Homo sapiens: one gene and its partner. The protein of the gene in region 1 interacts with the protein of each later gene in a pairwise test. Each region holds a gene or a part of one and is shown in the gene's direction. Other genes may lie near its edges.

Evidence for each region.
Region 2: the proteins of CCP110 (region 1) and KIF24 interact in binary tests that used the Homo sapiens proteins (3 or more experiments, as listed by UniProt).

The regions. Positions count from the first base shown.
Region 1 is NC_000016.10:19,522,015-19,525,767, forward strand, and holds the start of CCP110 (centriolar coiled-coil protein of 110 kDa), read left to right. Parts: upstream 1-1,927; 5' UTR 1,928-2,074; intron 2,075-2,765; exon of another isoform or gene 2,766-3,753.
Region 2 is NC_000009.12:34,322,580-34,326,332, reverse strand, and holds part of KIF24 (kinesin-like protein KIF24), read left to right. Parts: intron 1-3,753. UniProt on the Homo sapiens protein: Microtubule-dependent motor protein that acts as a negative regulator of ciliogenesis by mediating recruitment of CCP110 to mother centriole in cycling cells, leading to restrict nucleation of cilia at centrioles.

The DNA.
Region 1 (3,753 bases):
GGGGCAGTAGAACGAGAAGCGAGGGGGAGGGTCCAAGGCACCGGCAGCAGCAGGAACCCTCTGAGGGGACCAGCGCCGCACAATGGCGGCAGCAGACACATCCAGAGAGGGAGTCGGCCGCCCAGCCAATCAGGGATCGGGATTCGCAGCGCCAGTGGGCGGAGCCGCTCCATGGCAACGGGGGAGGGCCCAGGCCCCAGGCCCCAGGCTCACGTTCCAAATCTAAGGTGGGTTAGGGTTTTCCGAGGTCTGAACTTCAACCTGGGCGTTCAGACTCCTAGGCGAGAAAAGGAGGGATAAGAACCATCCTAAAGCTGTAGGACTGGAAGGGATTTTAGTGACTCCTTTATCTGCCCTTGAGGAAACTGAATTCCAGGGAACCTGGAGAGGCAGGATGCTTAGACTATCAATTCAATTCAATTCAATTCAGTTCAGTTCAGTTCAATTCAAGATGTGCCAAATACCGGTCCAGGTGCTCCGGACACAGTTGAACAGGACCTACAGGGTTTTTGCTCTTATGGGATTCACATTCTTGTGGGAGGAAATAAAAGTTAGCAAGTACACCTAACGTTTACAGAGCACTTACCATGTCCCAGGTACTTGACGAGCAAACACTTTATATGCTTATCTCATTCTCAATACAGCCTAACAGTTACTATCAGGAGACTGATTTCAATCGACTTTATTTTCCAGATTCTGGGGGACTGGAAGAGCCTAGCAAAGAAGGCACAATCGGATTATAAAACTGGAAGGGGTTTTAAGGATTCCCTTATTTCATAGATGCGGAAACTGAGGATAGGTGAATTAAGCAGTTAATGGCAGGGTGGGGACTGACATAAAGGCCTCCCCAGTGATTTGTGACATTTTCACTCCTCCTCCCCCTAATCTTACTTCTGCTAAGGGCTTTTGTACCAGGCACTGTACAGGAGTTACCTCAACTGTGCCTCACAACCACCCTTGTGATAGGCACTTTTAAAACCCCCATTTTACATATGCAAAAACAGGCACTGGAAGGAGGGTAAGAGAGATAGACCATGAAGCCGAGTTAGGGAGTGAAAAGGGGCCCCTGGACATATTTTGGAGGGCTGGTAACATTTTTATGTAGAGAACTTTGCAAAAATATTCAGGGATTTTTCTGTTACCTTTTTTTCCTTTAGTGCATTTTCCCACTGATTTGCAAAAGGGGATAGATGTCTTAAGCCTTCCAGTTGGCATCTAGGATTCAGCCTTTTTTTTTTTTTCTTTCAGACAGTCTCACTCTATCGCCCAGGTTGGAATGCAGTGGTGCAATCATGGCTCACTGCAACGTCGACCTCCTGGGCTCAAGCGATCTTCCGACCTCAGCCTCCCGAGTAGCTGGGATCACAGGCTCGCGCCACCCCACCCGGCTAACGTTTAAAATTTTTGTAGAGATGCCGTCTCCCTTTGTTGCCCAGGCTGATCTCGAACTCCTGGGCTCAAGCGATCCTTCCGCCTCGGCTTCCAAAATGTTGGAATTATAGGCGTAAGCCATCACGCCCGGTGGGTTCAGCAAGTTTTTACCTACAAGAAAATATTTTGGTGAATGTTACATGTTTTCTAACGGCTGCATAGAAAGGGGTTATCTTTATACAGATAAGAAAAAAATGGCAACTTCAAGGAACACTTCAGGGGGCTTCAGACCCTGAGGGGTGTTCCTATTCTACTAAATAAGTAAATTTATTAATAAATTCTAGTCTCTAGCTTGCAAGGAAGACTACGTTTCCCGGCGTGCAGCGTGCTGGCCGTAAGCATTACGTCCTCCATCGCGGGCGCGCAATGCACCTCGGGGATGGTAGTGTTCTGGTGGCCCAACGGTTTTAACAGCCCGGGAATCAACCACCGGAAGTGCCGGCCCTGAGAGGTGGAGTCGGGGTGGCAGCGGCGGCGGTTGCCAGGAGCCCGCGTTGCAGCCTGAGATCCGTAATATGGCGGGGAGGAGGAGGAGAAGGCGGCGGCGGACCGAGCTGCGCTCTGTCAGTACCATTTGAGCCATTCGCTTCCTGACAAGGCCCGTGGCGAGGGGAGAGGAGCTGAAGGGGCCGTGGGGGATCAGGTGTGTGCATGAGGAGGGGGCTTGAGCCTTGACGGGTCCGGGCTGAGAGGTGGTCTGGCGAGGCGAAATTGGCGCCCTGAGAAGCTGAGGGCGGGCTCTGTGCTGGGCTCCCGGGCCTCGAGCCCCCTGGAAAGGCGCCGGCTGTTGGGAGGCGGGACCCCGGGGGCAGCCAGCACCGGGCGCTGAGGTGATGCTCCGATGCTGGCCCCGCCTGGAGGGCCCTCGGTTTGGAGTCTTAAATCGGAGGAGCTGGAGGAGGTGGGCATGGGGCGCTGGGGAGAGGGCAGGGGGCCGTCCCTGGTGAATAAAACTCGGGCCAGAGCCGGAGAACCCCATCGTGGTGATCAAATTGTTTGGGCCGTTTTTCTTCTCCCTCCCACGGTGCTGGAGAGGGAGGCTTCCCCGGGGTGTGCATTGGCCATTTATGAGCCCCTGTTTCCACAACCAAGGCCCTAGGAGCGCTGCTTACTTCGCCTTTGCCACTCTGGGGCATAAACTTGAGGATAATAAAGTAATCGATTGCCCCTGGAGCTGCTAGATGGTTCCCACCCTTTGATTCTATTCTGGTTACGATCCAAGCTCCCTACCCCCAGTTTAGGCAAATGGCAGCCATCTCGAGATTGATTTGACGGGGAGAGGTCTAGGGACAGGGAAATGAGGAAGCCGTTGTCCCCTTTTCTATATTTTTCAGTTTCATTTGAAACCTACGGGGAACCAAGCACTGTCGCTGCCCTCCAGGAATTCATACTCTACTGCTAAAAATCGTCATCATCATTATCCTCTTAATAAGAAAAGCAGTCCCCATTATTTGTTGCTTTCTGCGTGTTCTGCACTACGTTAATTGCCCTACATGCATTAGCTCATTGAATTCTTACAACATTCCTTTGAGACGGATACCGTGATCATCCCTCTTTTACAGAGGACGAAACAGGTGTGGGGATGGTAACTGGCTTGCCAAGAACTTGCAGCTAGTACGCATCTGAATAAGAAATCTTCCCCTTTACCGCTTTTACAAGAAGTTTGCGTCTTTGGCGGAACTGATGGGCAAAGAAACACTAGGTTCTGCAAAAAAAAAGCAGGATCTGTTCTGTGTTACTTTTACCACTCTTTTCAGTGACATGTCTGGCAGAGCACGGGTAAGGAGCAGATAGGACCATGAGTCTACGGGGTTTGCAAAGAGGCTCATTTGCACAAGGGTCAGTGGTTCTCTGTGGTATAAATGGAGAAGACGGCATGTCTGAACCTGCTGTAGCTGACAAATTATTACTGGAAGTGGACCAGTGATGCCTGATGGCAAGATATAGAGCAGTAGATTTGTGGCTGGGGTAGCCTTGTAGTCAGGGCTCCCTTAAAATAAAACCTTGCTGACAGTGGTAATTGTAGTGTGAAAGGCATAGTGTCCTCTTGCTTAATCATGGGATACAGACTGCTCACTTCTTAAATGGTTACCTTTGCAGTTTAAGAGGTACCAGTTTCTCTGGGACTAGAGCCATGGTGAAATTTCCATTCTCTAAATTCCACTCTTCCTTGCTAGCTTCGGTGTATAGTCCGCCTTCTTTTTTTCTTCTGGTTTACATTATTGTTTGAGCTTATTATTATTCTTATTCATTTATTCAATACTTTTATCAAGTGCCTGCTGTGTGCTGATACTGTTCTGTGTAATGGGGATTCAGTGAACA
Region 2 (3,753 bases), on another chromosome or scaffold:
TTGCCCACACTGAACTGCAGTGGTGTGATCATGGCTCACTGTAGCCTCTGACTCCCAGGCCCAAGCAATCCTCCCACCTCAGCCCCCCAAGTAGCTGGGACCACAGGCATGTACCACCATGCCCAGCTAATTTTGTTTATTTGTAGAGACAAGGCCTCACTATGTTGTCCAGGCTCATCTCAAACTCCTGGGCTCAAGCAATCCTCCCTCAGCCTCCTAAAGTGTTGGGATAACAGGCATGAGCCACTGTGCCTGGCTGACCTTGTCTGTTTTGTTCACTTATATTCCTGGTGCATAAAACAGGGCCTATCTCATACAAGTCTCTCAAAAAATATTTCTTGAAGATTGGATAAAGTTTCCTCTTGGAACTGTAACCATATCTGTGTCCATATCAATTCATTTGAGTAATACAAACTTGCATAATTTTGGTGTCCAGGAGCAGTGACTCAGGGCACCAGCATCTCTGTCACAATTTTCCTGAGTAATCAAATTACCCTGATAAATAGTTTCTACCACCCGTTACCACAAACGATATCAAATGCTTTTATAGAGTTTTAATATACTGTAGGGATATTTATTCATTAAACAATTATTGAATATTATTTCCAATCACTCTTTTATTTATTTATTTATATTTTTTTCTGAGATAGTCTTACTCTGTTGCCCAGGCTGGAGTGCAGTGGCGCAATCTTGGCTCACTGCAACCTCTTCCTCCCAGGTTCCAGCGATTCTCATGTCAGCCTCCTGAGTAGCTGGGATTACAAAGTGTGTGCCAACATTCCCAGCTAATTTCTGTATTTTTTGTGGAGATGGGGTTTCACCATGTTGACCAGGCTGGTCTCGAACTTTTGGCCTCAAGTGATCCACCCACCTCAGCCTCCCAAAGTTCTGGGATTACAGGCATGAGCCACCGTGCCTGGCCCCAGGCACTGTTTTAGAACCTGGGTATAAAAAGACTAATAAGACATATTGCTTTTTTTTTTTTTTTGAGACGAAGTCTCACCCTACTGCCCAGGCTGGAGTGCAGTGGTGTCATCATGGTTCACTGCAGCCTCAACCTCCTGGGCTCAAGTGATCCTCCCATCTCAGCCTCCCAAGTAGCTGGGACCACAGGTGTGTGCCACCATGCCCAATTAATTTTTATTTATTTACTTATTTATAGAGATGGGTTCTCCATATGTTGCCCAGGCTGGTCTTAAACTCCTGGGCTCAAGTGATCTTTCTGCCTCAGCCTCCCAAAGTGCTGGGATTACAGGTGTGAGCCACTCTGCCTGGGCAAGACACATTCCTTGACCACAAAGAAATTATACTCTATTAGGGGAAATAGACATAATCAAATAATTATCATATAATAATTATTAATATAATTAACTGTAATAATAGAGATATGCAAAAGGTATGATGCAGACACGGAAGGGACATCTGATCACATTGGGGGAGACCAGAAAAGACCTCATTTGTTGTTATAATCAGTAAGAGGTAGACAGGTAAAGGGAAGTTTGATGATAGTGGAGGAGGCCACTTAAGAGCACAATGTGAATGAATGCACAGAGAAATAAAACGGTCTAAGAAGTTGACTAAACTGTAGAGTGAGGAAGGGGCTAGATTACAGAAGGATTTGTGGGTCATGCTTAGGAGTTTGGACTTTGTACTATGTGTAGATGATAAGATACCATTGAAGGGTTTTTAATAAGGGAGCAGCATTGTTATAACTGCTTTCAAAAGAGTGATCTGGCTCTACAGTCTGGAAGATGGTTTGAGGAGGGGCATAACTGGAGGCCAGGAGAACAGGTATGAGACGTGTAATGAATAGGTGGAAGATATGGGGCTGAATCACCAGAGCAGTGGTGGTAGAAATAAGGATAGGAGAGGAGAAATTTGGCAAGTATGTGGGAGATTAAATTGGCTGGATCTATTGATTAGTTTTGGGATTAAGGGAGAAGAAGGCCTCTAGGATGCTTTCTCGTTTAGTTCTGAGTGACTGCATGAATGGTATTTTCACCCCCCTTCCAAAGAAGAGAGAAGTGGAGGGGCAGATTTTGTCAGGAGGTATAATGAATTCTGTTATTGACAAGTTCAGATGCTCGACTGTGGAGACATTTTTATAGTGATTCCTGCTGTTTTTGCTGCAACACATAGCCATGAGATTGTCTGTGTTACTACGAGGTGAACTAAAGTTACATTGGGATTCTGGAAGTAACCCACTTAATAATATTGCACAACGTCCAGACTAAAGAGACTAGTTGAGATTTCACCAGCAATGAGGGGTGGTACTGTGTCTATTACAGTCTTTTAAATTAGCCACTTGCTTATGTGAGATTTGATTAGTTAAAACTAGTGGTGTAGAATTATGTAGCCAATATATGGCTATCTGATCACTTTCTAAAACAAATTTATGTCATGGTTTTGAATAAATTAAATTATCTGTGCCTCAGTTTCTTTATTTGTAAAAAGGGAGATGATACTAATTGCCATCTATCACAAAAAGTCTTGGAAGATTATTCAGGTAGCACAATTAATTACATGTTAATAATTTTGATTACAGTGAAAGAAATTATTGTTTTAGTCGTTCTTTGCTTTCTCGATGTCACTCCTTTGGAAATAATTCCTGGTCCCATGGTGGCAACAGTTCCCAAAGGGACTGAAAGAATGTCATCTTGGTAATTTATGAAAACTGATTGTAACAGTTATTTTTCTGATTGAACATGTGAAATATATTCTGTTGAAAGTATTTTATGACTGCAGTGTGGCAAAATCTGCAAATGACAACGTCCTGCAGTCTGTCAGAGCAAGATTTTAAAAATAAAGCACTGAATTTAAACCCAACATTGGTTACCACCTGTTACTGAGAAGTCTTTCAGAATTAAATGTCTATATTTAGAGAAAGTAATACTTGGCACTGGTTTAAGATAACTAGGTTCTAAAATTTTGTTATGTTTATTTTTAGGTGATTGCTCATGCTTTTCACCAAATGTAAAAACGTAGTAAACTCTTTGTGGGGCTCTTGAGGGGAATTGTAGTAATTGTAGAGCATTAGCTACTTAACCATAAACAAACTTGAAACTATTTTTTTTCTGTTAAAAACAGAAACAATTTCTTGAAAACTACTTTTTAAAAATGGATATAATTTACATGATTTATATCCCCAAATCCACATCTTGCCTTAAGAATTCTATTAAGTATCATATATTCTAATTCCTTTGCAGCAGCTGTTTTAAGCAGTTGTCTAGTATCATCTGTCTTCTGTTGAGATCAGTAGTCTATAGATAGAAGAATCCCTAGAGTTTGAAATAAGTTCCCTTGTAGGGGGAAAAGTGTATACTACATTTTTCACCCTTTAATCTCTCACTGATAATACTGAATTTATTGTGTTCTTGGTGACCTTATGCCTAATATGGGGTACAGAAATGTTTTAATAATAAAATTGATTGAAAATGCTGATTTTCTTTTGTATCAGTTTCTTTAATTTGTTTTTTGGAGACGGAGTCTCACTCTGTTGCCCAGGCTGGAGTGCAGTGGCGCAATCTTGGCTCACTGCAACCTCCGCCTCCCAGGCTCAAGCAGTACCCCGCAATATCAGCCTCCCAAGTAGCTGTGACTAAAGGCATACATCACCACACCCAGCCAATTTTTATATTTTTTGTAGAGATGGAGTTTCACCATGTCGTCCAGGCTGGTCTCAAACTCCTGGGCTTAAGGGATCCAACCACCTTGGCCTCCCCAAGTGCTGTGATTATAGGCATGAGCCACAGT